Linked DNA regions of Homo sapiens. The protein of the gene in region 2 purifies or fractionates together with the protein of the main gene of each other region. This does not show direct contact. Each region holds a gene or a part of one and is shown on either strand. Other genes may lie near its edges. The genes, in order: PLOD1, PRRC2B and ZER1.

Evidence for each region.
Region 1: the proteins of PRRC2B (region 2) and PLOD1 purify together in Homo sapiens (affinity purification with mass spectrometry; 2 studies listed by BioGRID and IntAct, with this or other methods). This does not show direct contact.
Region 3: the proteins of PRRC2B (region 2) and ZER1 purify together in Homo sapiens (affinity purification with mass spectrometry; 2 studies listed by BioGRID and IntAct, with this or other methods). This does not show direct contact.

The regions. Positions count from the first base shown.
Region 1 is NC_000001.11:11,970,651-11,977,993, reverse strand, and holds the end of PLOD1 (procollagen-lysine,2-oxoglutarate 5-dioxygenase 1 isoform 2 precursor), read right to left. Parts: intron 7,325-7,343; coding exon 7,178-7,324; intron 5,123-7,177; coding exon 4,997-5,122; intron 3,342-4,996; coding exon 3,186-3,341; 3' UTR 2,457-3,185; downstream 1-2,456. UniProt on the Homo sapiens protein: Part of a complex composed of PLOD1, P3H3 and P3H4 that catalyzes hydroxylation of lysine residues in collagen alpha chains and is required for normal assembly and cross-linkling of collagen fibrils.
Region 2 is NC_000009.12:131,387,518-131,398,378, reverse strand, and holds the start of PRRC2B (protein PRRC2B), read right to left. Parts: upstream 4,294-10,861; 5' UTR 4,116-4,293; intron 1-4,115.
Region 3 is NC_000009.12:128,760,410-128,771,431, forward strand, and holds part of ZER1 (protein zer-1 homolog), read right to left. Parts: exon of another isoform or gene 10,749-11,022; intron 1-10,748. UniProt on the Homo sapiens protein: Serves as substrate adapter subunit in the E3 ubiquitin ligase complex ZYG11B-CUL2-Elongin BC. Acts to target substrates bearing N-terminal degrons for proteasomal degradation with the first four residues of substrates being the key recognition elements.

The DNA.
Region 1 (7,343 bases), on a different chromosome or scaffold from region 2:
TTCCCTGCAAGCATTGGTCTAGGTCCTGGTCACTTGCCTGGACTGCTGTAGGAACCTCTGAATCCATTCCCAGGCATTTAGTCTTGTACTCTGCCCAGCAGCTGGGCTTTATCTCTGAAACACATCTGCATACTTGCCCAGCAAGTAGAGGAAATCTCAGTTTGGAGATATGTTTCAACCCATTAACATGTGTTTCTCATTGAGATGGCTGAATCCTCGTTTCAACCCTCGGGATGACAAAACTCTCCTAGCAGTGCTGAGTGTTATTGGGAATGGGTGCAGAGCACACTGATGTACAACTCCAGGAGACCTTTCTTTCTTACGTTTTTGTTTTTTTTTTTAAGACAAGAGTCTTGCTCTCTCACCCAGGCTGGAGTGCAGTGGCACAATCTCAACTCACTACAACCTCTGCCTCCCGGGTTCAAGCGATTCTCGTGCTGCAGCCTCCTGAGTAGTTGGGTTTACAGGCATGTGCCATAAAGCCCACCTTATTTTTGTATTTTTAATAGAGACAGGGTTTTGCCATGTTGGCCATGCTGGTTGAGAATTCCTGGCCTCAAGTGATCCTACCACCTCAGCCTCCCAAAGCGCTGGGATTACAGGCATGAGCCACTGCACCCGGTCCATATTACTTTTTGTTGTTGTTGTTGTTGACAGGTTATTGCTCTGTCACCCACGCTGGAGTGTAGTGGTGCAATCTTGGCTCACTGCAACCTCCACCTCCCAGGTTCAAGTGATTCTCCCAGCTCAGCCTCCCAAGTAGCTGGGATTACAGGCACCTGCCACCACACCTGGCTAATTTTTGTATTTTTTTGTAGAGATGGGGGTTTTGCCATGTTGGCCAGGCTGGTCTCAAACTCTTGACCACAAGTGATCCACCCGCCTCAGCCTCCCAAAGTACTGGGATTACAGATGTGAGCCACAGCATCCGGCCCCCCATGTTACCTATTTTGTTTGACTTTTTCATGGTGAAGATGAGTTTGTAATCAGAAAAAAGTTAACAGTTAAAAACAACCCTATGCCGGGCACAGTGGCTCACACCTGTAATGCCAGCACTTTGGGAGGCCGAGGCAGGTGGATCATCTGAGGTCAGGAGTTGGAGACCACCGTGGCCAACATGGTGAAACCTCATATCTACTAAAAATACAAAAACTAGCTGGGCGTGGTGGCGGGTGCCTGTAATCCCAGCTACTCGGGAAGCTGAGGCACGAGAATTGCTTGAACCCGGGAGGCAGAGGTTGCAGTGAGCCGAGATCATGCCATTGCACTCCAGCCTGGGCGACAGAGTGAGACTCCATCTCAAAAACAAAAACAAAAATAACCCTAACATACACAAACACACACACAGGCTTGTGTCGGCACAAACCAGCTCAAGAACGTTCAAAAAACAGATTAGACATGGTGGCTTTCAGAGAGAGGAACTGAGCAGCTGGGGGGAAAGGATGACAGAAAGATTAAGATTTGTGCTGTTTGAATTTACAATGAGTCAATTTTGAAAATGAAAAGACTAAAAAATCTTTTTTTTTTTTTAATTGAGATGGAGTCTTGCTCTGTCACCCAGACTGGAGTGCAGTGGCCCAATCTTGGCTCATTGCAACCTCCACCACCTGGGTTCAAGCGATTCTCCTGCCTCAGCCTCCCGAGTAGCTGGGATTACAGGCGCATGCCAACACAACCGGCTGATTTTTTCATATTATTAGTAGAGACAGGGTTTCGCCACGTTGCCCAGGCTGGTCTCAAACTCCTGACCTCAGGTAATCCGCCTGCCTCAGCCTAAGTGCTGGGATTACAGGTGTGAGCCACTGTGCCTGGCCTCAAAAATCTTTTTTAAAAGACTTTCAGGCCTGGGATGGTGGCTCACGCCTGTAATCCAGTACTTTGGGAGGCCGAGGCGGATGGATCACCTGAGGTCAGGAGTTCGAGACCAGCCTGGCCAACACGGTGAAATGAAACCCCGTTTCTACAAAAAATACAAAAATGTGTCAGGCATGGATACCTATAATCCCAGCTACTCAGGGGTCGAGAGGCTAGCATGACCTTTCTTAAAGGCTCTAAAAAGAGGGCTCTTGGCCGGGCACGGTGGCTCATGCCTGTAATCCCAGCACTTTGGGAGGCCGAGGTGGGTGGATCATCTGAGGTCAGGAGTTCAAGACCAGCCAGACCAACCTGGTGAAACCCTTTCTTTAATAAAAAAACAAAAATTAGCCAGGCGTGGTGATGGGTGCCTGTAGCCCCAGCTGCTCGGAAGGCTGAGGCAGGAGAATTACTTGAACCCAGGAGGCGGGGGTTGCAGAAAGCGGGGATAGCGTCATTGCACTCCAGCCTGGAAGACAGAGTGAGACTCTGTCTCAAAAAAAGAAAAAAAAAAAAAAAGAGGGCTCTTAAAACCTCTCTCCCTGCAGACACTCACACCAAGACACACACACACCCACTCGCCCTGAGCATCTTCCCTTCAGTGGTTTAAATGACCTTTAATAGAAACTCTCCAGTTTCTGACGGTCTGTCCCTCTCTTCAGAGGCATCCAGGACAGGGTGACCCAGTGTGGTGTGTGGACCTGTCACTCCCCTCCCCACAGGCAAGTAGAAGATCGAGCTGTGCACAGATGCCTCTTCTGTCTCCCAAGAGGTTCTCTGGAGTCGCTGTCTCCAGGGGACTACGGTTTGCTCTCATGACCAGCCATGGAGGCAGAAGTCCCAGACTCAGGGCAGCCCTTGGAGTCTGATCCAGGTGTCTTTACCCCAAAACTTGAAGCAGAAGTCCCTGGTGCAACACCTGTGCCTGGGAGAAGCTCTGGCCATGGCTTCTCACCCAGACAGTCTTTCTGGGCAACTTGGGGAAGCCCCTGTTCTGCTCAAGTCTCACCCCATGGAAGAGGTGGGGGAAGGGGGCCTTGGTTTTTCAGGAAGACAGGTTGGAGAGCACGAGTCACTACAAAGCAGTAAAAGTGAATGGTGTCTCCAGGGGCTGGGTCCAGAACACCACGGAGAGCCCCAGCCATAAAGGTGTGTTCCGCCTCTGGCCTGCAGGAATCTCTTTGAATCTCTTTGATTGGTGGCTCCAAGAGCAATGGGAAGTCAACAGCCAGGAGGCTGGACTGGGTTCCCTGGGACCCCGAGGTCCCAGAGGCTGCTGGGCAGTGGTTGTCGGCAAAGAAGAAAGGTCCAAGAGGGTCAGGCCTGGCCAATTAGGGATCGACGAAGGAGACTGCGATGTAGCGGGTGCCCCTGGTGGTGGGGAGCCCCTCATGGTAATGCGTGAGTCGTCCAGGGTGCATGAGGGTCCAGCCCTTCCTTGGGGCTCGGATGGAACAGTTGTAGCGCAGGAACCGACAGCCCCCGCCCTGGGAGACAGAAAGCATCAGTGGCCTTTCCCCACCGCCCCCCTGCCCGTCTGTTCTCCCGTCATGATCTCCTGTCATGGCCAAGTGGCCCTCAGCACTGCCTGCCTGGGGATGCCTTCTGGAGTGACAGCCACAAGCGCTGCTAAGGAAGACACTAAATGAAGAGTAGTGGCCAGGAGTGGTGGCTCACGCCTGTAATCCCAGCACTTTGGCAGGCCAAGGCGGGTGGACCACCTGAGGTCAGGAGTTCAAGACCAGCATGGCCAACATGGTGAGACCCCATCTCTACTAAAAATACAAAAACCAGCTGGGTGTAGCAGCGCACGCCTGTAATCCCAGCTATTCGGGAAGCTGAGACAGAATCACTTGAACCCAGGAGGCAGTGAGCCGAGATCGCGCCACTGTACTCCAGCCTGGGCAACAGAATGAGACTGTCTCAAAAAAAAAAAAACCCAAAGAGTAAGTGATCAAGAGCTCTGTCCTTGGAGTCAGGCAGCCCTGGGCAGACATCACCTCCACTCTTTACTAACTGTGACCAACCTGAGCTTCAGTTTCCCCTTCTGTAAAATGAGGGTTAAACAGAACAGGATAGTGAGAATTAAATGAGATGTTACAATTGAGAGCTGAGGATCAAGCTTCCCAACCTCACCACTATAGACACTTTGCTGTGGAAGGCTGTCCCGGGCATCTCTGACTTCTACCCACTAGATGCCAGTAGCCCCTCATAGTTGTAAAAACCAATTATGTCTCCAGGTACTGCCAATGTCCCTTGCAGGCCACAGTTGCTCCTGGTTGAGAATCCTTGGATTAGGGATGCCTGATATGTTTGTTGTAAGCTCTCAAAAAATTATAGCTCCAGCCTGGGCAACATAGTGAAACCCCATCTCTAAAAGCAAGAAAAAAAATTAGCTGGCCATGGTGGCACACGCCTGTGGTCCCAACTACTTGGGGGGGCTGAGGTGGGAGGATTGCTTGGGCCCAGGAGGTTGAGGCTGCAGTGAACTGTGATCATGCCACTACACTCCAGCCTGGGTGACAGAGCAAGACCCTGTCTCGAAAAAGAAAAAAAAAAGGATTATAGCTGTTTTTATGAGTGTTCTCCACAGCACCCAGCCCAGGGCTAAGTTCAAAAAACCTCTTTTTGTTTTTTTTGGAGACAGAGTCTCGCTCTGTTGCCCAGGCTGGAGTGCAGTGGCATGATCTCAGCTCACTGCAACCTCCACCTCTTGGGTTCAAGAGATTCTCATGCCTCAGCCTTCTGGGTAGCTAAGATTACAGGTGTGTGCTACCACGCCCAGCTAATTTTTCTATTTTTAGTGGAAATGGGGTTTCGCCATGTTGGCCAGGCTGGTCTCAAACTCCTGGCCCCAAGTGATCTGCCTGCCTTGGCCTCCCAAACTGCTGGGATTGCAGGCATCAGCCACCATGCCGAGCCCAAAAATCTCTTAAAATAGTAGCTTAAGAGCCTGGCCCCTCCTCCTGCTAGACTGTGAACCCTTCCAGGAAGCCCTCCCACAGACCCACATCCTTTTTTTTCTGGTTCTCTGGCACTGGTTACCTGGGGCCCCTCTGCCTCAACCACCCTGAAGCCTCTCCTCAGCTAGCCCTCCTCATCCCCATTGCCGGCCCCTTGACCCCGGCTGGCTCCTGCTCACCTCGTAATCCACCCCGACTCGGTTCAGGGCGATGTTGATGGTGAAGGTGGAGGCATCATGGTGTGGCATCAGTGAGGGCTGCTCATCAGGCTTGTAGCGGACGACAAAGGCCAGGTCAAACTGGGCCTGTACCAAGGCAGGGGGACAAGAGAGCCCGTGTTAGTTAAGGAGGACACAAAGGCCAGGAGAGGAGGGTGCACACATGGGGCCTGGTCTGGCCTGCTGCAGGTCAGCTTACAGGGGCCAGGTCTACATGGGGCTCTATGCTCGAGTGCCTGCAACTACCTGGCACAGAAAAGGTTCTCAACAAAAATGTATGGACAGAGGGGAGAGAGGGAGGGAAGGAAGAGAACAGAGGGGAAGGAAGAAAGGAAGGGAGGGAGGGAGGAAGGGAGGAAAAGGGAAGAGAAGAAATGAAAGGGAAGAGAAGAAATGAAAGGGAAGGAGGCCGGACATGGTACTCACGCCTGTAATTCCAGCACTTTGGGAGGCCAAGGTGGGCGGATCACCTGAGGTCAGGAGTTTGAGACCAGCCTGGCCAACATGGTGAAACCCCATCTCTACTGAAATTACAAAAAATTAGCCAGACATGGTGGTGGGCGTCTGTAATCGCAGCTACTTGGGAGGCTGAGGCCGGAGAATCGCTTGAATCTGGGAGGCGGAGATTGTAGTGAGCCAAGATTGCGCCACTGCACTCCAGCCTGGGTGACAAGTGCGAAAGAAAAGAAAGAAAAAGAGACAGAGAAAGAGAAAGAGAGAGAGAAAGAAAGAGAGAGAGAGAGAGAGAGGAAGGAAGGAAGGAAGGGAAGAAAGGAACGAAGGAATGAATGAAAAGACAAAGACAAAGGGGGGCATCCAATCCTCACAACCCTTTCTGGCAACTATCCAGGCTGGATTCCCTGAGGCAGGACCCAGGCACGCCATGGGCAGGTATCTGGAGAAACCAGAGACCAAGGAAGGAACTGAGTCTTGGAGAAAGTACCTTGGAGAAAGCCAAGGTAGCAGTGGACAGACACATGAGTGATAGCACTGGAAAGAATTGTGAGAATTAACCGAGGCCAGCCAGGTAATTGTTTCCGGGGAACCACAGTAAGCATTCAAGGGATGAATGACAACTGTCAGTAACAGGAGTTCAGGGTTTTCCTCACTATTGGAAGAAGGCTGCTTCGGACGAAGCAGGGCCCAGGCGTGGGGCACAGGCTTGTGGCTAGGGAGGGAGTGGGCACGCTGGCCAGCTAAGGTGGGCAGGGGTGCTTTTTTGGTGGGCTGGTATAGGAGCCACTGAGGCAGGGTTAATGACAAGGAAGAAAGATTCAAAAGAGCTGAGGTCGGCCAGGCACGGTGGCTCATGCCTGTAATCCCAGCACTTTTGGAGGCAGAGGTGGGCGGATTACTTGAGGTCAGGAATTTGAGACCAGCCTGGCCAACATGGTGAAACCCTGTCTCTACAAAAAATACAAAAATTAGCCAGGCATGGTGGCAGGTGCCTGTAATCCCAGCTACTCATGAGGCTGAGTGAGACTCCAGCTCAGGCTAGAGGCCAACTAGCCGGCCCTAGAGTCCCAGCCCAGCACCCTGTCTTCCCACACGCTACTAGATGGAGGGGGTGTGTGCGGTGAGACCTCACTCCTGCCTGGGGACCAAATATCCAGGCCTCTCCCATAAGCTGGGATGTTCCTCCACCCGTACTCCAACCCAACCCCTTCCCCAGCCCCTCCCCTTGCCAGACTCTCCAGCCCCCACCCACCCCTGGCCCTTCCACCCAAGCCCCCCACTCCACCCTACCCCTCCCACCCCATCCCCCTGCCCCACACTGGCCTCGACCTCCCCACCAACTCCTGCCCCTTCCAGTCTCTCCACTCCCTCACCCCTGCCCCCCCGCCCCTCTAGGCTTTCCACTCCCACTCACCCCTGCCCCTCCCAGGCTCCCTACTCCTCTCCACCCCTCCCAGCTTCTCTACCACTTCCCACCCCACCCCTGCTCTTCCCAACCCCATCCCCACCCCTCAGTCCCTCTACCTCATGCCCCACCCTTGCCCCTCCCACGCTCCCCACACCCTCACTCCACCTCGGCCCCTCCCAGTTTCTCCACCTCCCACCCTACCCCCACCAGTCCCAGCCACTCCACTGACACCCCACCCAACTGTCCCCGCATCCTGGCTATGCCCCAGGCTTGCCCACCCTGGTGTAGTAGCCGGGGTAGAGCTTCTCCGTCATGGGCGCAATGTACTCCAGCAGGAATTTGTGCCACTCCCGCTCAAAGCCGATCTGGTTCATGTGGATGTCAATAGTCGGCACGTTCTCGTAGCCACCCTGGATGCGGTTGTCCTGGAGGTGACCGAGGTGA
Region 2 (10,861 bases):
CGGAGGTGCACTTCAGCTCGGACGAAGGATGCTTCTCAGGTCACACAGAAAACCAACAAGTACAGCTGAGAACAAAGCTCAACCACAACTTCTGGCTCAAGACACTAAGACAAACCTACCTCCCAGCACAAAAGAGATTTCCCACGTGCCACCCAGAGGTATAAACAGTAATATCGCCAATGGCAAGGCCCAGGTCTGCCAGCTCCCAGGTGAGGAGGTCCAGTCTGAATGGCACCTTTTAAACCTAAAGCTAATGACAAACAATTCTATTTCACCAGAAACAAAGCTCACCATATCCCATGTCGCTCCCATCTCCAACACCACAGCCAGTGCCTGTATTTCTTTGTCCCAATGACAGACCCAAGTTTCCTGAGGCTGTACAAGTCCCAGAAATAATCTTAAAAAGAGATCAAGTTATGATCTGAAAAGAAGACAGTCTAGTTAGCCCTGCCTCCTTACATGAAATTTATTTAAAACCAAAATTACAAGATTTGGAGCACAAAGCCCATTGTCTGCTGGAAATGTTGTTTTTTGGGGAGAAATCCATTGTTTTAAAATCTAGTATAGATAGGCTCTATTTAGTACCTGTCCGCCCATGACAAGATATGTACATTTCACGGTAGGGAAGCCTCATTATTGAATTCAGAAATACATGAATTGACCCACCTGGCCTATTCTGGTTTGAAATAGAAACCAACACAGAAATGATCAATCTTAAGGGGTAGGATAATGAGACATATAACTAGCATACAGCCACAGCCATTAGCAACATGAGTCAGTACTTTGTGCAAGGCAAAAAAAAAAAAAAAAAAAAACCCTCAAAAGTACAATAAAATAATCCTTCAGGATAAAAAAAGAGAACTGAAATTCAAAAGAGGTTAGGAGTGTTGAACAGGAAAAAAAAAATTAATAACAAAAATCCCTCAGCTAAGCACAAGGCAAAGGGACCCATGCTGGAACCAGTTCTGACCTGCCATTCCTGAAATTCCACTCTCCCGAGGTTTCCTGGCTCTTCCTTCCCCAGGCTTTCTTTTTACCTATTTGGGCCCAGTGGAGGCTGGAGACGGCCACTGTACGAGATGGGACGCCCACACAGTGGGCTTAGGGCCTAAGGCAAGGGCATGCAATCAGCATTAGGGGGCCACAGATAACCAAAATTCACAGGTATGCAGAAGCTCATGGGAGAGGCAGCGACTATCTCCTGGCCTAACTAACCAGTTAACAGTATAGAGCCAGACTGGGCCCGAGTGAAGTCAGACAAAAAGGAAGGGCCAAGAGGCAGGAAGCGAGGAAAAATCAAAGGATGACAGGACCCTGCTAAAATATCTCAGTTCCACAGCTAGGAGGTCTGGAGGGGGTGCCACATTTTACCAAAAAACCAACAAGATGGTTGCGGGAATGCCAAAATGAACCAAAACAAATTCCCCAATAAAATGCAGAACCACTGCAGAGCCATTTACCAACAAGCTAACATGTTCAGCCAAGAGGTGACCTGGGTCTCAGTCCTCACTTGTGGCCAACACTGGGTTCAGTCTGTCTCCTGCTTCTTAGCAATAGTCCTTCCACACAATCTCAAACAGCAGACACCGAGATCTGGCTGAGCTCCCTAGCTGTACTAAGCCATTCTGGTGCTTCCAGGTAGATGGGTGATAGTCACCATAGCAAAACATTAGCCGGCCATAGAATTTGGGGTGGGGAAGTCACAGTTCCATCAACCAAGAGAAGAGGAAAAAATAAGCATTAAGAGAAAGAAGACCGGGCGCGGTAGCTCAGGCCTGTAATCCCAGCACTTTGGGAGGCCAAGGCAGGCAAATCACCTGAAGTCGGATGTCTGAGACTAGCCTGGCCAACATGGTGAAACCCTGTCTCTACTAAAAACACAAAAATTGGCCAGGTGTGGTGGCACATGCCTGTAATCCCAGCTACTCCAGAGGCTGAGGCACGAGAATCGCTTGAACCCAGGAGGCGGAGGTTGCAGTGAGCTGAGATCACATCACTGCACTCCAGCCTGGGCGACAGAGTGAGACTGTCTCAAAAAAAAAAAAAAAAAAAAGAAAAGAAAAGAAAAAAGAAGGAAGGGAAGGAAGGAAAAGGAAGGGAAAGGGAGGGAGGGAGAGAGGAAGAGGGCAAGGGAGGAAGGAAGGAGAAAGGAACCAGAAAAACAGATAATCAACAAACACATACATTTCATCACCTTCCTATGGAGAGAAAACAATTCACTGTGAATCTTAAGTGAGGCTCCCAAGAGCCCTAATAGATACCCAAGGCAGGCATAATTATTCCCATTTTACAGATGCAAGATCTGAGCCTCAGAGACTTGCTTTGTAAAGGTAACCCGATGAGGACCAGAATCCAGCTGCGCAGGCTCCAAGAGACACACTTGCCCAAACAAGTAGAAACTCACTCTCAGATGATTATCTGCCAATCCCCAAGGAAAGCAGTTATCCTCAGAAGGCAGGACTCCTTGGGCGTCTGTTTGTCCTGAGCATCTCGTACTGTTCTAACCCTGCCTTAAACTGACCAACTGCCACACACTCCGGGTCTACTAAGTTCTAGAGACCTCCAAATGCTACTTTTTCCCATCCCTGCCTCCCGAGAGGCTCAGCACTGTATAAGCGCCCACTAATGTTTGGGCCTTGAATTCCTTCTGTATTGTCCATGCCTTAGGCCAGCACCTGTGGCATCCATGGGCACAGTTTGGCTCTATGGGTGGCACCACAAGGGGCTCACGTCTGTCCTAGGACTTGACAGCAGTTATACCAACAACCGTAGGAGGAACCACTAACTGTGCCAGGCCCTCTGCTAGGCCCTTCACCGCTGCCCAAACCTGCCAGGTGGAGGGTGCACGCCCCGATTTATGCAGATGAAGCCTCAGACAGCCCCAGAGTCACTAGGTTTACGGAAGAAAGAAGCAGGATCTGCACCCCAATGCCTGGGCCTCCCCAGTCCCACCTTACACCACAGCGCTGTGCATAGACATGACTAAATGGCTGCAGCGAGATTCGGAAAAACCATGCTAAGACCGCACACAATTGGTTACAAAAACCAAACTGGATGACACTGTACAAAGCCACATCAAATGCACACTAAACCTTAAAGAAAAAAAAAATCTTAGGGAAAGTTTAACAGTCCTGTAAACCAAAGGCATTTAAAGATTTCTCCCAGGAAGCCATTTAGCAAAAGACACTCCCCAGCCCCCCTTCTCCCACTTCCTTCAAGCTCACCACTGAAAACACCTCCAATTCTTGCCTAAAGGTGGGCTCCGACCTCCCACGATATTTAGAAGGAGGAAAAAAGAAAAAGGAAAAAAATCCACCTCTTAAGGCAAATCCACTCTTCAGAGGCCCACAGTTTCAACAGGGCTGAATTTCTCTCCTGGGGGTTGAGGGGAGGCAAAAGAGGAGGAAAAAAAAAAAAACCCCATCTGGCAGGCCCCGAGTGGCGACATCCTGTTTATTATTAAACATTTTTAGCATGGAGCATTCAGCATTTCGAAAATAACCCTCTGGTTCCCGCACTCACACCGAGACTGGGCGGCCGCTCGCCTCCCTCCCCCAGCCGCCAACTTTAGCGCCGCCGGGGCCCGGCCCACCCCGCGCCAGGAACGGCCCCGCGAACGCCGCTCAGCGCCCCGGACCCAAGGCCCGACCCCGCAGGATCCCGCCTCGGGCGCGCTGCTCCGTCAATTGGGCGGGGCGGGGAGCAAAGACGCCGGCCCCAGAACCCCGAGACCCGGCTGCGGGCCCGGGACCCCCGCCCCTCCGGCCTCTGCAGCCCGGCCCGGCCTCGGGGGTACGGGGGTGGCGGGCGAGCCCTGAGGGAGTCGCGCGGCCCCTGGACCCCGCCCGAGCCTGAGGCCGCGCGGCGCCGCCACAACAATGGCGAGCGCGCCCGGGCCCGCCGCCCCCAGGCCCCGCGGCCTCCCAGCCCCGCAGCCCCGCGCCCGGCGGGAAGGAGGCGGCGGCGGCCGCGCTCGCGGACAAAGGTCGGGCAGGGCCGCAGGGCCCCCGGGCCCCCGGCGGCGGCCGCGGGAGACAAAGCCCGGCCGGGCCGCGCCGCCTCCATCTTAGCGCCGCCGCCCCCACGCCCCGGCCCCGGCCCCGGCCCCGACCCACCTGGTCTGGTTCCGCGGGCGCGGCCGGGCCGGGCGATGGCAGTCGGGCGGCGGTCGGGCACGGGGGCGGCGGGATGGCGGCGGATTGCGAGGCGGCGGCGCGGGCTGCTCGCTCGCTCGCTCCCTCCCTCCTCCCGGGCTCGCTCGTCGCTGCGCGGTGGAGCCTCGGCGCCTGTCTCGCCGCTCGCTCCCTCGCGCTCGGCTCCCCGCCCCCCGCCTGCCGCCGCCCCCGCCTCCTCGTCCTCCTCCTCCCGCCGCCGCCCGCAACCTGGGCCCGCGCAGCGCCCCCTGCCGCGCCTCCCGGGAGCGGCGGCCTTGGGATCGGCCCGGGGGCCGGGCGAGGGCTGGGGCCAGGGGGGAGGGGCGGGGAGCGGCGGGAGGGGGCTGGGAGGGGGCTGGGAGTGGGGAGGGGCCCGGGGACGGCGGGAGAGGCGGGAGAGAACGGGGCAGAGCGGGGATCGGGGAGGAGACCCGGAGGAGGGGCCAGGAGCCAAGAGAAGGGGCCTGGGAAGGGCATGGGCCCGGCCTGGGCCCGGGGGAAGGGCGCCCGGAAAGAGGGGGAAGGGATGGAGGGGGCAGTGACGGGGGAGCGAGCCCGGATCTCCGCCCCCTCCCCCTTCAAAACTGCAGCGCCTCAGAACAGACTAAGCCCGGATTTTGTTAAAATATGTATACGGTATATGAACGGAAAGGAAGCAGAAATAATACTTTTTTCATTTCAAAAGCAAGGTTGTTGCACAATATGGGTACTTTGTCCCATTTTTACAAAATGAAAACTAATAAGCCCCTCCTCTTGAGTGTTGTGTGTTTGTGTGATTGCAAAACAAAAGGTCCGGGAGACTGCACTCCTGTCTTGGTTACCTCCGTGGTTTGAGGTTGGGAGAGCGGAGGAGGGTTCTTACTTTTTTAGACACCTAACCAACTATAAAAGCAATTTCAAAAAGCAAATACAAAAAAAAAATGTTAGGGCCTGGCACCCAAATCATCCCACCCTCTTCCAGTCACGGTTGCTCTAAGCACCAGCTGCGGGCCATGCCCTATGCTAAAGCACGTGGTTTGTCTCACTTAATCCTAACCCAGGGGCAGATATTATTGTTCTAATTCACAGGTGAGACAAAGGAGGCTTTGAGAGAATGTGCCCCAGGCCACACTGCTGGACCCAGAAGGAAAATTAACCCACTTCAGCCTAACTCCAGAACTGAGGCTGGTGAACAAAGCTTAGTTTTTGGGGAGTAGAATTCTGGATACTTTTATAGCCTTATTTATAATTCTCTGAATTTTCCTACATTTTATCCATGGTCATTTTCAGTGTTATCCTTTTTTTCTTTTTTCTTTTTTTTTTTTTTTGAGACAGTCTCGCTCTGTCCCCCAGGCTGGAGTGCAGTGGCACAATCCGCAATCTCTGCTCACTGCAACCTCCAACTCCTAGATTCAAGCGATTCTCCTGCCCCAGCCTCCTGAGTAGCTGGGATTACAGACATCTGCCACCATGCCCAGCTAATTTTTGTATTTTTGGTAGAGATGGGATTTCACCATGTTGGCCAAGTTGGTCTGGAACTCCTGCGCTAAAGTGATCCACCTACCTTGGCCTCCCAAAGTGTTGGGATTACAGTGCCGGCCACTCTGTTTTACATCATCAAATCTGCATTATTCCCCTGCCAATGTCTTCAATATTTCGCTATCTCTACAAAACAGGGAGGATGTAACCCTAATTTTTGTTTTCGATTTTGTTCCTTGACCATCTTCAGGAAGGCCATAGAATTGGCCCAGTGCTCAAAACCCAGCAACTAATAAAAATGATAGAAGGCAAATAAACAAATAAAAAATAAATTAAATAAATAAACTGAGCCTCAGGTTCTTCATCTGTAAGGCTGGCGCAGTGGCTAACACCTGTAATCCCACCACTTTGGTAGGTCGAGGCAGGTGGATCATGCGGTCAGGAGTTCAAGACCAGCCTGACCAATATGGTGAAACCCCATCTCTACTAAAAATACAAAAATTAGCCAGGCATGGTGGCAGTCGCCTGTAATCCCAGCTACTTGGGAGGCTGAGGCAGAAGAATTGCTCAAACCCGGGTGGCGGAGGTTGCACTGAGCCGAGATCATGCCACTGCACTCCAGCCTGGGTGACAGAGTGAGACTCCATCTCAAAAAAAAAAAAAGAAAGAAAATAAACAAGCAAAAAAGAAATAAACTATCTGAAGCCTCAGATTCTTTATTTGTAAGGCCAAGCGTGGTGGCTCACCCCTGTAATCCCACCACTTTGGGAGGCCGAGGCAGGCAGATCACCTGAGGTCAGGAGTTTGAGACCAGTCTGGCCAACATGGTGAAACCCCGTCTCTACTAAAAATACAAAAATTAGCCGGGCATGGTGGTGGGGTCCTGTAATCCCAGCTACTCGGGAGGCTGAGGCACAAGAATCACTTGAACCCAGGAGGTGGAGGTTGCAGTGAGCCAAGAGCACGCCACTTCACTCCAGCCTGGGCAACAGAGAGAGACTCTGTCTCAAAACAAAATGATAGGAGGAGGCTGAACAGTAACAGGGTGGTTTACTGAGCACTTACTATGTGACAGCCACTGTGCTAAACACTCCCTATAGAGTCACTCAGGTAATCCTCACGACATACCCATAAAACAGACACTAGTGTGCCCATCCAACAGAGAAGAAAAGTAGACTTTGTGGAGGCAATACAATGCCCCCCACCAAAGATGTCCAAGTCCTGATCCCTGAAATCTGTGAAAATGGTACCTTCTCTGGCAAAAGGGATTCTGTAGATGGGATGAAGTTAAGGATCTTGAGATGCAGAGATGAATCCTGGATTATTTGGTTGGGCAGGTGGAATCACAAGGGTCCTCACAAGAGGAAGGAAGGAGGGTCGGAGTCGGAGAAGATGTGGTTGATGAAGCGGAGTTCATCATATTGACTGACAAAGGAATGACGCAGGACCTCACGCCCAGAAATGCAGGCTGCCTCTAGAAGCTACAAAGGACAAGGAATGGATTCTCCCCTAAAGCCTCCAGAAGAAAATGAGCCCTGCCAACCACCGTGACCTCCAGAACTTTAAGATAACAAAGTTACATAAGCCACTAAATGTGTGGTAATGTAGCAATAGAAAACTAGTACAACCTTGGAGACTTGCTGAAGGCAACACAGCGAGGGAAGGGTTAAAAGGCAAGCTAGGGCCAGACACAGTGGCTCAAGCCTGTAATCCCAGGACTTTGGGAGGCTGAGGTGGGCAGATCACTTGGTCAGGCGTTCGAGACCAGCCTGACCAACATGGTGAAACCCTGTCTCTACTAAAAATACAAAAATTAGCCAGGCCTGGTGGTATGTGCCTGTAATCCCAGCTACTCAAGAAGCTGAGGCAGGAGAACTGCTTGAACCTGGGAGGTGGAGGTTGCAGTGAGCCGAGATTGCACCATTGCACTATAGCCTGGGCGACAGAGCGAGACTCTGTATCAAAAAAAAAAAAAAAAAAAAAAAGCTAGGGCACAGTGGCTCACGCCTGTAATCCCAGCACTTTGGGAGGCCGAGGCAGGTGGGTCACGAGGTCAAGAGATCGAGACCATCCTGGCTAACATGGTGAAACCCCATCTCTACTAAAAATACAAAAAATTAGCCAGGCGTGGTGGCGGGCGCCTATAGTCCCAGCTACTCGGGAGGCTGAGGCAGGACAATGGCATGAACCTGGGAGGCAGAGCTTGCACTGAGCTGAGATCACACCACTGCACTCCAGCCTGGGCGACAGAGCAAGACTCTGTCTCAAAAAAAAAAAAAAAAAAAAAAAAGGCAAGCTAGGAGTCTTGGGAGAGAAGAGACCTGGCTTCAAATCCAGCTCAGCCATCTCCTACCTCCCTGACCATCCTCATGGAGAGAATGGCATGCAGTCATCCATCCCTGCAAAGTGCTTAGCCCAGAGGAGAGCCCTGGGAATCAAAGTTCGTCCGTTCATTCACTGGGCACCTGCACTCTGGTGCTCACTGTGCCAGGCTCTGGGGCCATGCTGTTGAACTGGGCAGAGAAGGGCCACTACAGTCAATAAAACAAACACAGGCCAGACGCAGTGGCTCACGCCTGTAATCCCAGCACTTTGGGAAGCCAAGGCGGGAGGACCACGAGGTCAGGAGATCAAGACCATCCTGGCCAACACGGTGAAACCCTGTCTCTACCAAAAATACAAAAACTAGCCAGGCGTGGTGGCGGGCACCTGTAATCGCTCGGGAGGCTGAGGCAGGAGAATCGCTTGAACCCAAGAGTTGGAGGTTGCAGTGAGCCAAGATCGCCACTGCACTCCAGCTTGGCGACAAAACAGGACTCCATCTCAAAAAAAAAAAAAACAAAAAAAAAAACAACCATGTTCCGAGGTTTTAGTTCTGGTTCTGTCTCCAACCAGCAGAGCTAGCCTTTTGGTGCCTAAGAGTTTCTACCTGCGAAAATTGGGTGGGGAGCACTGTGGTGTCTCTCCAGCTGGGATCCCCAAGCAGAGAAGAGAGCTTGGCACAAAGTAAGCACTCAATCTCCATGGTGGTTGAAAAGTGGATGCCTGGACAACTGAGGCCAAAATCATGGCTCCTGACCAACCACACAAAACACACGGCTCACAAAACCAGCCAAATAAGCACATGCACTAAAGCCTCCAAACCTCAGCAAGCCTGGAGGTGGGTGCCCAGCCTCCCTTCCCCTACTGTCACCACTATGGGGACAAAGCATCCAGCAAGGTGTCAGAGGAAGAAAACATACCTGGTGTTTTGAATACCTGCACTTAACAGTCGAGAAAATAGAGCATCAGAAAGTTCAGTGACTTGCCCAGCCAGGCACAGTGGCTCATGCATGTGATCCTAGCACTTTGGGAGGCCAAGGTGGGCGGATTGCCTGAGGTTGGGAGTGTGAGACCAGCCTGACCAACATGGAGAAACCCCATCTCTACTAAAAATACAAAAACTGAGCCAGGCATGGTGGCGCATGCCTGTAATCCCAGTTACTTGGGAGGCTGAGGCAGGAGAATCGCTTGATTCACCAGGGAAGCGGAGGTTGTGGTAAGCCGTGATCCCAGCACTGCATTCCCGCTTGGGCAACAAGAGCGAAACTCTGTCTCAAAAAAAAAAAAAAAAAAAATTGAAAGGAGCCAGGCGCAGTGGCTCACACCTGTAATCCCAGCACTTTGGGAGGCCAAGGTGGGTGGATTGCCTGAGCTCAGGAGTTCGAGACCAGCCTGGGCAACATGGTGAAACCCCCATCTCTACTAAAATACAAAAAATTTGCCAGGAGTGGCGGCATGCACTTGTAGTCCCAGCTACTTGGAAGGACGAGGCAGGAGAATTGGTTGAATCCGGGAGGGGGAGGTTGCAGTGAGCCAAGATCATGCCACTGCACTCCAGCCTGGGCAACGGAGCGAGACTCCGTCTCAAAAAAAAAAAAAAAAAAGGTAAAAGGAGGGGCCAGGTGCGGTAATCCCAGCACTTTGGAAGTCCAAGGAGGGCGGATCACGAGGTCAAGAGATCGAGACCATCCTGGCCAACATGGTGAAACCCTGTCTCTATTAAAAATACAAAAATTAGCTGAGCATAGTGGCGTGTGCCTGTAGTCCTAGCTATTCAGGAGGATGAGGCAGGTGAATCACTTGAACCCAGGAGGCGGAGGTTGCAGTGAGCCAAGATCGCGCCACTGCACTCCAGCCTGGTGACAGAGCAAGACTCTGTCTCAAAAGAAAAGAAAAGAAAAAAAGTGCTGGGCGTGGTGGCACACGTCTGTAATCCCAGCACTTTGGGAGTCCGAGGTGCGCGGATCACCTGAGGTTGGGAGTTCAAGACCAGCCTGACCAACATGGTGAAACCCCATCTCTACGAAATACAAAAAATTAGATGGGTGTGGTGGTGTATGCCTGTAATCCCAGCTACTCGGGAGGCTGAGGCAGGAGAATTGCTTGAACCTGGGAGGTGGAGGTAGCAGTAAGCCAAGATTGCACCACTGCACTCCAGCCTGGGCAACAAGAGGGAATCTCCATCTAAAAAAAAAAAAAAAAAAAGTAAAAGTAAAAGTTGATGAAATTAATTTTAATAATGATTTTTTTTTTTTTTTAGACAGCGTCTCGCTCTGTTGCCCAGGCTGGAGTGCAGTGGAGCAATCTCGGCTCACTGCAACCTCGGCCCCCCGCCCACAATGCGTTCAAATGATTCTCATGCCTCAGCCTCCTACATAGCGTGTGCCATCGCACCCAGCTAACTTTTTGTATTTTAGGTAGAGATGGGGTTTTGCCATGTTGGCCAAGCTGGTCTTGAACTCCTGGCCTCAAGTGATCCACCCACCTGGGCCTCCCAAAGTGCTGGGATTACAGGCATGGGCCACTGCACCTGGCCTAATAATGAATTTTATTTAGCCTACTATATCAAAAATATTACTGTTGCAACAGGTAATTAATATTTTAAAATTATAAATGAGATCACTGACATTCTTTGTGGTCACATGAAGTCTTCAAGTCCGGCATGTATTTTATACTTTATAGCACATGCCACTCAGTGCTGGGCAGGTTTCACACTCTCGGTGGTGGCACAGGGGCAGTGAGCTCTTTACCTTCTCCACTGTTCCTCACAGCCTTTGCCAAAGTTTGGGAAGTGGAGGAGATGACAGTACCGTGAGAGGCAGGATGACCGCATCTGTCTTATTTGATGCAAATCCCTCAGGGATTAAGTCTGGCACAAGGGAGATATCGGTCTAAGGCTCAGGAGGACAAGGACTTAGTCCATTTGG
Region 3 (11,022 bases), 2.6 Mb from region 2:
GCCAGGATGGTCTCAATCTCCTGACCTTGTGATCCGCCTGCCTCGGCCTCCCAAAGTGCTGGGATTACAGGCGTGAGCCACCGCACCCAGCCCCAAAAGTTTTCTTTTAAGTGCAGGCTCTGTGGTCAGACAGATCTATGTTTTGACCCAGTTATACAATTCACTGTAAAATTACTTAACCTCTCCATTGAGGCCAACATAGTGAAACCCCGTCTCTACCAAAATACAAAAAAAAAAGCTGGGTGTTGTGGTGCACACCTGTAATCCCAGCTACTCAAGAGGCTGAGGGAGGAGAATCACTTGAACCTGGGAGGCGGAGGTTGCAGCGAGCCAAGATTGCGCCACTGCACTCCAGCCTGGTGACACTGCACTCCAGCCTGGCGACACAGCGAGACTCCGTTTAAAAAAAAAAAAAGTTACTTAACCTCTCCAGACCTCAGTTTCCTCATCTGAAAAATGGGGATAATAGGCCAGGCGCGGTGGCTCACGCCTGTAATCCCAGCACTTTGGGAGGCCGAGGCAGGCGAATCATGAGGTCAGGAGATCAAGACCATCCTGGCTAACACAGTGAAACCTGTCTCTACTAAAAATACAAAAAATTAGCTGGGCGTGGTGGTGGGCACCTATAGTCCCAGCTACTCGGGAGGCTGAGGTAGAAGAATGGTGTGAACCCGGGAGGCGGAGCTTGCAGTGAGCCGAGATCGCGCCACTGCACTCCAGCCTGGGCGACAGAGCCAGACTCTGTCTCAAAAAAAAAAAAAAAGGGAGGGGGGGATAATAATCTCTACTTCACAGGGCTGTGGTACTAAATGAGATAATGTTGAAGAAATGCTTAGTCCCAGCCCAACAGACTAAGTACACAACATGGTGGTTATGACCCCACCTTTTTTTTCTTTTTTCAGAGTCTTGCTCTGTCACCCAGGCTGGAGTGCAGCGGCACCATCTCAGCTCACTGCAACCTCTGCTTTCCAGGTTCAAGTTATTCTCCTGCCTCAGCTTCCTGAGTACCTGGGACTACAGGCACCTGCCCCTACACCCGGCTAATTTTTGTATTTTTAGTAGAGACGGGGTTTTGCTATGTTAGCCAGGCTGGTCTCGAACTCCTGAGCTCAGGTGATCCACCCGCCTCGCCTCCCAAAATGGTGGAACTACAGTCATGAGCCACCATGTCCAGCCCTATGACCCCATAATTTGTTTTTTTTTTTTTTTTTTTGAGACAGAGTCTCACTCTGTCACCCAGGCTGGAATACAGTGGTACGATCTCGGCTCACTGCAAGCTCCGCCTCCTGGGTTCATGCCATTCTCTTGCCTCAGCCTCCCAAGTAGCTGGGACTACAGGCGCCTGCGACCACGCTCGGCTAATTTTTTGTATTTTTAGTAGAGATGGGGTTTCACCATGTTAGCCAGGATGGTCTCGAACTCCTGACCTTGTGATCCGCCCGCCTCAGCCTCCCAAAATGTTGGGATTACAGGCGTGAGCCACCGCGCCCGGCTGACCCCATCTTATAGAGGAGGAAACTCAAGGTCAAACAGAGGGAGCTGTGTAAACTAGACTGGAACCTGGTCTCGTGGAATCCCTCACATCTCTTAGAGCAAGCTTGTCCAACCTGTGGTCCATGGGCTGCATGTGGCCCAGGACAGCTTTGAATGCAGCCCAACACAAATTTGTAAACTTTCTTAAAACATTATGACATTTATGGACTTTTTTTTTTTTTTAGCTCATCTGCTGTTGTTAGTGTTGGTGTATTTTACGTGTCGCCCAAGACAGTTCCTTTTCCAGTGTGGCCCAGGGAAGCTAAAAGATTGGACACCCCTGACTTAGAGGGTTCTGGAGTTCTGGGGCCCAGCATTGTCCCAGCTTCTGGGAGCCTCCCTCTGTGCCCATTTGTAAACCTTCCAGACTGCTCAGGAAATCCAGCGGGAAGCCACAGGGCACACTGGGCTTTGGAATCAGCCAGTTCTGAGTTCAACTGTGGCACCACTGTCTACTGGGGACTGTGTGTGGATGGGCTGTGGATTCAGGCAGGCATAGCTCACATTTCAGCCTTGCTGCTCACGAGGAGACAAACTTGGGCAAGTGTCTCCACCTCTCTGTGCCTCAGTCACTTTTCCTCTAAAATAGAAGCAGCACAATACCTCATCCCCAGCACGGTGTGAAGATTCCATGGAATAATATCAAAAGGGCTTAGAACGGTGTCTGGCATGTAGTCATTGCTCAATAAAGACAACCGTTATTATGTTGTTGTTATAATCATTACCTTCTCCTACCTCATCTGCCCTGGCTCCCAGCTCCGGGCCTGTGCTCCCCGGCCTGGGTCTCCCACAACAAGGCTCATTGTGTCAGCTGTCCCACTGGCAGCATGGCACCCTCGAGGGAAGGCACAAAAGCCAGGATGCCTGGGCCCCGGGCATGGCCTTCCTTTGCCTTCATTTGCTTCAAGATCTTTAAGAGCCCAGCAGCCTCTCTTGCCTGGGAAACTGGAACCAGAGGGAGCACTGCTGGCAGAGAGTCCCCACTCTTGGAAAGCAACTCTTTTCAAGCCCACCGGAATTACAGCCAGCTTTCTGGCCTACTTGGTCCCCACTGCCCCCCTACTCCAGCCAGCCTGGCCTCATCATTCACTGTCCTGGCAAAAGGCCCTCGGCACAGGTCACCTTCAGACCTTTGCCCAGTCTGTTCTCTTTCAACCAGGACCATCCAAATTCAACTAATTACTGCACTTTCTAATTTAAATACTGCCTTCTCCCCTCCCCTACCCAAATACACTCCATGTCCTTCCTCCAGGAAGTATCTCCTGGCCACTCCAGCCCACATGATCTTTGAACTCTCCTTTCACGTAGCTGATACCTATGGTCCCAGTGTCAAAGTTACTTCCTCTGGGAAGCCATGCTTAACCCACCAGGGTGTGCCTGCTGAGTCCCCCCACAGGCCCGATCTACCACAGCAATGAACACTTGGTACGATGTGGCTTTGATGATTCAGCATCCTTGATGGATGGCCAGGTCCATGAGGGCAAAACCAGGCTGTCTTGTTTGGTATCACCTCCCTGGACCTGCTCACTCAGTCCCTGCTGAGCACTGGGGGTCCTTGGTGAGCGAGCCGGACAAGGTCCTTGACCACATGGAGCGTACTGGCTCCGGAGGGAGACAGATCCACCTACAGGGCCCATAAGCGCCTGTCGCGTAACTGGGACCAGTGTCTTGCAGGAGAAGGGGCCTGGGGCTCTGGATGCCCAATCAGGGGACTTGCCCTGGACTGGGGAGTCAGAGCAGGTATCCTTAGAAGTGACATTTCAGGCCAGGTGCAGTGGCTCACACCTGTAATCCCAAAACTTTGGGAGACTGAGGTAGGTGGATCACCTGAGGTCAGGAGTTCGAGACCAGCCTGGCCAACATGGTGAAACTCCGTCTCTACTAAAAATACAAAAATAAGCTGGGCTGGTGGCGCACGCCTGTAATCCCAGCTACTCGGGAGGCTGAGGCAGGAGAATTGCTTGAACCCGGGAGGCGGAGGTTGCAGTGAGCCAAGATCACACCATTGCACTCTAGCCTGGGCAATAAGAGCAAAACTCCATCAAAAAAAAAAAAAGAAGTGACATTTCAGCTGGGACCCAAAAGATAAGTCCTAGTTAACTCTGGTGGAGGGGAGAGAAGGGGAAGGCGCTTTGGGAGGAAGCAAAGAAGTACCTAAGCTGCAAGGAGAGGGGGTGCATGGGACGTTGGCACTACGGGCCCAGGTCCATGACTATTTGCTAAATGAACAAAGGAAGCACTGAACACTCAATGTGGGGCCTGCCACAAGGTGAGGTTTCAACAAAGGCCTGTGGAAGGAATGACAAAGTACTCGCCATCAGAGGTCTGCACGAGGCCTGGGAGGTATAGTACACTCTCGCATTCTCCCTGCTTGCTGCACTCAGGACACTGCTGGGCGCCCAGTGGCTGCAAATGATGCCTCTTGGCTCGGAGGCTCTGAATGAGGGAGAGCCACTGGGGTTTTGCCTTTTCTGCAGGTCTGAGCCCAGTTACCTAGGCAGCTGCTCTGCCCTTACCATGCTCCCCAAGTGGAAGAAACACCACCACGTCAGTTGTCACGGTCACCAAAAGCCCCCAAAACATAAGCCAGGTAGATGGCGCCATCTGCTAGCCTCCCCTTAGCAGTGTTGACCTTGCCACTCAGGGCTGGAATGAGCTGGAAGAGGAAGCAGCCATCTTACATCCTGGCACAGAGACTGAAGGGCCCCGGGGCTACCATGCCCTGAGACCCATCCAGCTGCGGGCCTGGCACCTGCCAGAGGCAGCCATCTCTACCTACTCCACTCTACCTACTCCATTCCTTAGGGATTGTCATTCTCAGGGCAGTCACAGGCCATCTGGAATTCCAGCAACTGAGGACAGAGGGAGCTCTGGTTATGACCGACCACCACACTGGGAGAACCCTGTGTCTTTCTCCATCCCTTTTCTTGCATGTTCTCTAATACTAGGTCTATCATGAACATTCGACATCCTGGGGAATGAAGGAAGTGGGAGAGAAGAGAGAGAAAAACAGCACCAGCAGCAGCAGCAGCAGAAGGCACCGCCATACCACGTCCATGTTGGCTGCTTCCAGATGTGGTCCTAAGCTCCTTACAGGCTTTACTCCCTCGAGTCTCTTACTCAACCGACAAAATATTTCCTAGTACCCTGTACTTGCAACTAATTAATCATTTACATAACAATTTGTCAACTGACACCCTCCTACTGCCTGTGAGCTCTGGGAGGACAGAAGCTGTATGCTTGCTTGCATGCCTGCATCCATGCACATGTACACACACACACACACACACACACACACACACACACACGTGCGCAAGCGCGCACGCACCTGTATCCTTGGTGTCTGACTTCGGTGCCCAATTTATGCCTGGTGTTTAATAGAACAAAGGTTTGCTGTGGCTGGAATTCCCTTACTCTAGTACTGCAAGATAGAGATTATTACCCCATTTTCTGATGAAGATACTGACGCATACACAACTAAGCAGAAGCTTGCCTGAGATCACAAAACTGATGAGAGTGGGATGCAAACCTAAAGCAGACCCCCGCTTCTCACCAAATATTTGGTCTTCAGTCCATCCATCCAAACAATGGGAGGGAAAGAGAAACTGAAGTCTGGAGGTGGGAGCATGGGATCCCACCAGTGTCCTGATACCCAGAGGACAGAGAGGTTGGGGGAGCCAGAAGCTCTGAGCCTTGGAGCAGTACTCACCCTGTGAAATATTAACCTAGGAGCTGGGGGGAAAACCCAAACAAATGCCCTATTTACAGAGGCTAGACGCTTTCCAGGAGGCAGCAGATCAAGGGCCAGAGACTGGGGGTGTGAGGGGAGTCACAGCAAGTGTGGGGATCTCCAGGTGGTCGGGAAACAGGTGAAAACCAGACGCCACCTGGCTCTGAAAAGTCTGCAGAGATTAAATCTATGAGTTGGGTTATGTCAGAAAGATGCAGACACACAATAATTGGGGAGTGTGCCTCACAGCTAGGTGGCTGCTCATGATGCTGGAGACAGAGAGGCCTTGAGGAGGCTGCATTCGGCTAGTAATCAGACTGGTTGGGTTCTATTCTTGTAACCAAATGTATTAATGATCCTACCCATACTGAATACCAAGTATATACCAAGAATTCTGGCTGGGCGTGGAGGCTCACGCCTCTAATCCCAGCACTTTGGGAGGCCAAGGCGGGCGGATCACGAGGTGAAGAGATTGAGACCATCCTGGCCAACATGGTGAAACCCTGTCTCTACTAAAAATACAAAAATTAGCAGGGCGTGGTGGCGGGCGCCTATAGTCCCAGCTACTCAGGAGGCTGAGACAGGAGAATTGCTTGAACCCGGGAGGTGGAGGTTCCAGTGAGCCAAGATTGCACCACTGTACTCCAGCCTGGCAACAGAGCAAGATTCCATCTCAAAAAAAAAAAAAAAAAAAGAACTCTGTTAAGTATTTTATATGTGTTAATTAATTGAATTCTCTCAACACCCAACAAGGCAGGAGTTACCATCTACAACTTACAGAAAAGGCAGCTGGAAGGAAGGGGCTATGGCTATGCAATTTGCCAGAGACTATGGATCTGAACAGACAGATATGTACACAGGTAGTTCATTAGTTCAAGACGCAGTGTGTCAGGCTGGGCACAGTGGCCTACGCCTGTAATCCCAGCACTTTGGGAGGCCAAGGCAGGTGGATCACCTGAGGTCAGGAGTTCGAGCCCAGCCTGGCCAACATGGTGAAACTCCATCTCTATTAAAAATACAAAAATTAGCCAGGCATGGTGGCGGATGCCTGTAATCCCAGCTACTTAGGAGGCTGAAGCAGGAGAATCGCTTGAACCTAGGAGGCAGAGGTTGCAGTGAGCCGAGATTGCACCACTGCACTCCTGCCTGGGTGACAGAGCAAGATTCCGTCTCAAAAAAAAAAAAAAAAAAAAAAAGACCCAGTGTGTCCAGCTTTCCAAGCAGTTCGCATCAAAGTCACAGATAACTTATTTATTTATTTATTTATTTTTCTTTCTTTTTTTTTTTGAGATGGAATTTTGCTCTTGTTGCCCAAGCTGGAGTGCAATGGCACAATCTCGGCTCACTGCAGCCTCTGCCTCCTGGGTTCAGGCAATTCTCCTGCCTCAGCCAACCAAGTAGCTGGGATTACAGGTGCCCGCCACCATGCCAGGCTAATTTTTGTATTTTTAGTAGAGACAGGGTTTTGCCATGTTGGCCAGGCTGGTCTCGAACTCCTGACCTCAGGTGATCCACCTGCCTCGGCCTCCCAAAGTGCTGGGATTACAGGTGTGAGCCACTGCGGTCGGCCTATTTATTTATTTTTCTTTTAAGAGACAGGGTCTCACTCTGTCACCCAGGCTGGAGTGCAGTGGTACGATCTCAGCTCGCTGCAACCTCCACCTCTCACGTTCAAGCAATCTCCCACCTCAGCCTCTGGAGTAGCTGTGACTACAGACGTATACCAACAGACCTGGCTAATTTTTTTATTTTTTGTAGCGATGAGGGCTCACCATGTTGCCCAGGCTTGTCTCAAACTCCTGGGCTCAAGCAATACGCCCACCTCAGCCTCCCAAAGTGCTGGATTACAGGTGTGAGCCACCGCACCCAGCTGCCACAGATAACATTTTATCAATATGATAATACATTATCATTTTGTTTCCCAGATAAGGAAACAATGGTTGAAAGATGAGCAATGAGTTGTTCCTCCGGTAAGTGTGTGACCCTAAAGTTCGAGCCCCTTGCCATTATGCTATGGGGAGGGACCATTTCTCCAACCTCAGCTTTCCCTTCTGTTCCACGAGCCTCCGCCGCTTCCTTACAACTCAGGCACTGAGCTCACATGATCCAGTACTGCTGGTAACCACTCCGTGGCATGTCATTTTTTGGCCACAGCATTGAAAGCTTCCTGAGGGCAGGGACCCTATGTGATTTCTGGGGTCTCCATTACAGAGTATGTGAGTGGCTCAATGCCAGTGACAGGGCCTCGGCTCCACAAGATCCCCAGCCAATGTTTTCCAGCCTCAATATTTATCAAGGTCCTTACCTGTCAGCATGTTGCGAGTGGCACACGCTGTGTTGCGCGTGTTGTGAACAGGGTTGCTGAGGAGATGCCATGAAAGGATGGCAGGAAGGTGGTAACCAATAATTATGAAGAGTGATGTTCCTGAGAATAATGCTTCAAGAGACCCTTCTGCATCTCTGAAGCTGGAAAATCAGTTTCAGCGATTGCGCCAGATATAAGACAGTGGTCCACAAATAGATAACCAGACAGGGGTCTCTGCACTCACCTCTCAGGACTCCAGAACAGATGAGGTACTGAAGCCAAGCAAAAAAACCAGAGTGCCAAGAGCAGTCTTCCAGCTAGTGGGCCCCCAAAACGTGTCTGCATAATCCTAGTGGTACTAATGATAATACCTTTGTAGAGAGCTTCAGAACACACCTAATTCTTTCACAAGCTGTGTCTCATTTCATCCTCCCAACAGCCTTTAGAGTTAGTCGGAGGCAAGGGAAGGCCATTATTCTTAATCTACAAATAGGAAAACTGAGGCCCAGAGAGGAGATGGAACCTGCCTAACTCACACAGCAAGCCAACAGCAGAGCCGGGATTTGAACCAGGTCCGCAGGTCACCAGCCTGGGGTTCTACCCACAACAGCCTACCCCAACATGCTGGCTCTCAGCTCCTAAGTGCTCTGACCTTTCATTTTCAAATTCTCTGGCCCAGTTGCCCTGCTCAGCCTGTGTCCCAGGCCTGAGGATATAGTCCGGGCTTGGGGTATAAGGAGGGAGATCAACTGTGGTTCTGCTTCCTATAAAGCAGGCTGGAAAGTCTCAGCCTCTGCCGGGCACTTCCGGATCACCAGCCTCTACCCGTAGATCAGCCACGCACACTCCAACCACATATCTAGGCCCAGCATACACTGCCCCTCCCCACCTGTCTCCAAGTCACATTCATTTCAACACCCTCATTTTGCCTATTTTACGTGGTAGAATGGAAATTTGCTGGGCTCATTTTAATTCTTTTTTTTTTAGAGATAGGGTTTCCCTATGTTCTCCAGACTGGTCTCAAACTCCTGGCCTCAAGCGATCCTCCCAAAGCGCTGGCAGTGCTGGGCTCTTTTTTAAAAGTCCCCATCACCCTCCGCTGCTGTCAGAAAAGCCAGGACCAAGCTAACGTCTTCTCTGCAGAATATTAACCCAGTTACCTCTGAGGGGTGTCAAGAAGTTTCTGTCTTGCTTTCCCCAATATTTCCTCAAATCCTACTAGTTGATGGAGGCAGCTAGAGCTGGTGACACCACCAGCTAGTGCTAAAACGAACGGCTCTGAGGCAGACATACATGCCCACATTCCTCATCATCACATCATCCTCATCAGCGTGACCGCTATGTATTGAGCACTTTGTGTGAAATACTGCATTAAGCACTTCAGCCCATGATTTTATCTAATCCAACAGCCCTATTTTCTTTTCTTTTCTTTCTTTCTTTTTTTTTTTTTGAGATGGAGTTTCGCTCCTGTCGCCCAGGCTGGAGTGCTGCAGTGGCATGATCTCAGCTCACTTCAACCTCCACCTCCCAGGTTCAAGCGATTCTCCTGCCTCAGCCTCTCCAGTAGCTGAGATTACAGGCATGCGTCACCACACCCGGCTAATTTTTGTATTTTTAGTAGAGATGGGGTTTCACCATGTTGGCCAGGCTGGTCTCGAACTCCTGACCTCAGGTGATCCACCTGCCTCCCAAAGTGCTGGGATTACAGGTGTGAGCCACCACACCCAGCCTGCTGTATTTTCCAGATGAGAAGATTGAGGTGGAAAAAGGTCCCGTGCCCACCTTCTCACAACCAGGAAGCAGCGGCATAACTTAACTTGATTTAATCGCAGTTCTCTGTGACCATGATTCTTTGTATTTGTTCCATCAATGGTCATTACAAAGATGGAAGAAGGGTACTTACAACCGAAGCCCCAAGCACAATGGCCATTTGTCATCTAAAACAAATCTGTATTTTCTCCAACCACCAGACACTTCAACAAGTACGGTTCTGAAAGGGTGTCCCATTAGACACCCTGTGACCCTGTATCACAAGGACAGCCCCTGATGTCTTCCCCACCTTTTTCTGGTCCCCACTGTTCTCTGACTTTCTTGCCAACCACTCTTCCCTTTCTTCAACCTGCTCCAGTCCCCCATCCTCCCACTGTTTCTTTCTTTTTTTTGAGACAGAGTCTCACTCTTGTCACCCAGGCTGGAATGCAATGGGCACAATCTCGGCTCACTGCAACCTCCACCTCTCAGGTTCAAATAATTCTCCTGCCTCAGCCTCCTGAGTAACTTGGATTACAGACATGAGCCACCACGGCCAGCTAATTTTTTTTTTGGTACTTTTAGTAGAGATGGGGTTTCACCATGTCGGCCAGGCTGGTCTTGAACTCCTGACCTCAGGTGATCCGGCTGCCTCAGCCTCCCAAAGTGCTGGGATTACAAGCGTGAGCCCTTATGCTGTTTCTTCAAATCACCAGGCATATGACCACAGGACCTTTGCATTTGCTGCGGAATGCTCTGCCACAAGAGAACTACCTGGCTTGCTCCCTCACTTATCTCTGCTCAAAGGTCACCTTACTAGAGACCTTCCCTGAACACCCTCTATAAAATGACAACTCCCAACTCCTTCCCCATGGTCCTTCCTTCTCTATTTTTCTCCAAACCACTTATTACCTCCTTACATATCATGTTTATTATTTGCTGAATGAACAAATGAACCAAAGTAGCGAGGCCCTTCACCCCTGGCCACCACTTTCTGCTCTAAGTATAGCCTCCCGTGACCCTTTTCAAGGCTATGCTTTTATGCTCATCCTAACCAGTTTGAAGTCTGAAGAGAAACATTCTGTGAAAGATCATATATGGAAGGATTTTCCCAAGACATCAGACATTCCATTCCCCTCCCCCTTAAAAATCAAATGCACTAGCTGAGCGCGGTGGCTCATGCCTGTATTTCCAGCACTTTTGGAGGCTGGAGCGGGCGGATCACTTGAGCCCAGGAGTTCGAGACCAGCTTGGGTAACATAGTGAGACCCCATCTCTATTTAAAGAAAAACAAAACAAAACAAAACGAATGGACTGACAAACACAGGCAAAGACTGGAAATCTTGGGCTCTTTCGGTCAAAGAGCAGCCAAGACAAGTTCCACCCAGAGAGCTATAGTGGCCAGCACAGTCAGTTTCACTATCAACTCACCTGTCGGGCTCCCTTGGCCCTCCGGTTGCAACCTCACCCTGTTGGATTTCCCTATACTTTGTGTCATCCCTTTTGGGAGCTGATCCAGAATCCAAGTCGTCCTTGAGCTTCTAAGCACTTCTCTGGGGGAACTTAAGCTCATCCAACAGGTAGGAGGGGCAGAGGGTGGCCCTTTCAGCCCTACACCGATCCCCCATCTTGTAGGGGCAAACGACAGAGCGTCATTTTCTTTCTGGAGGAAGGGAGCTCAGTTTTAAAGACACGATTCTCAGAC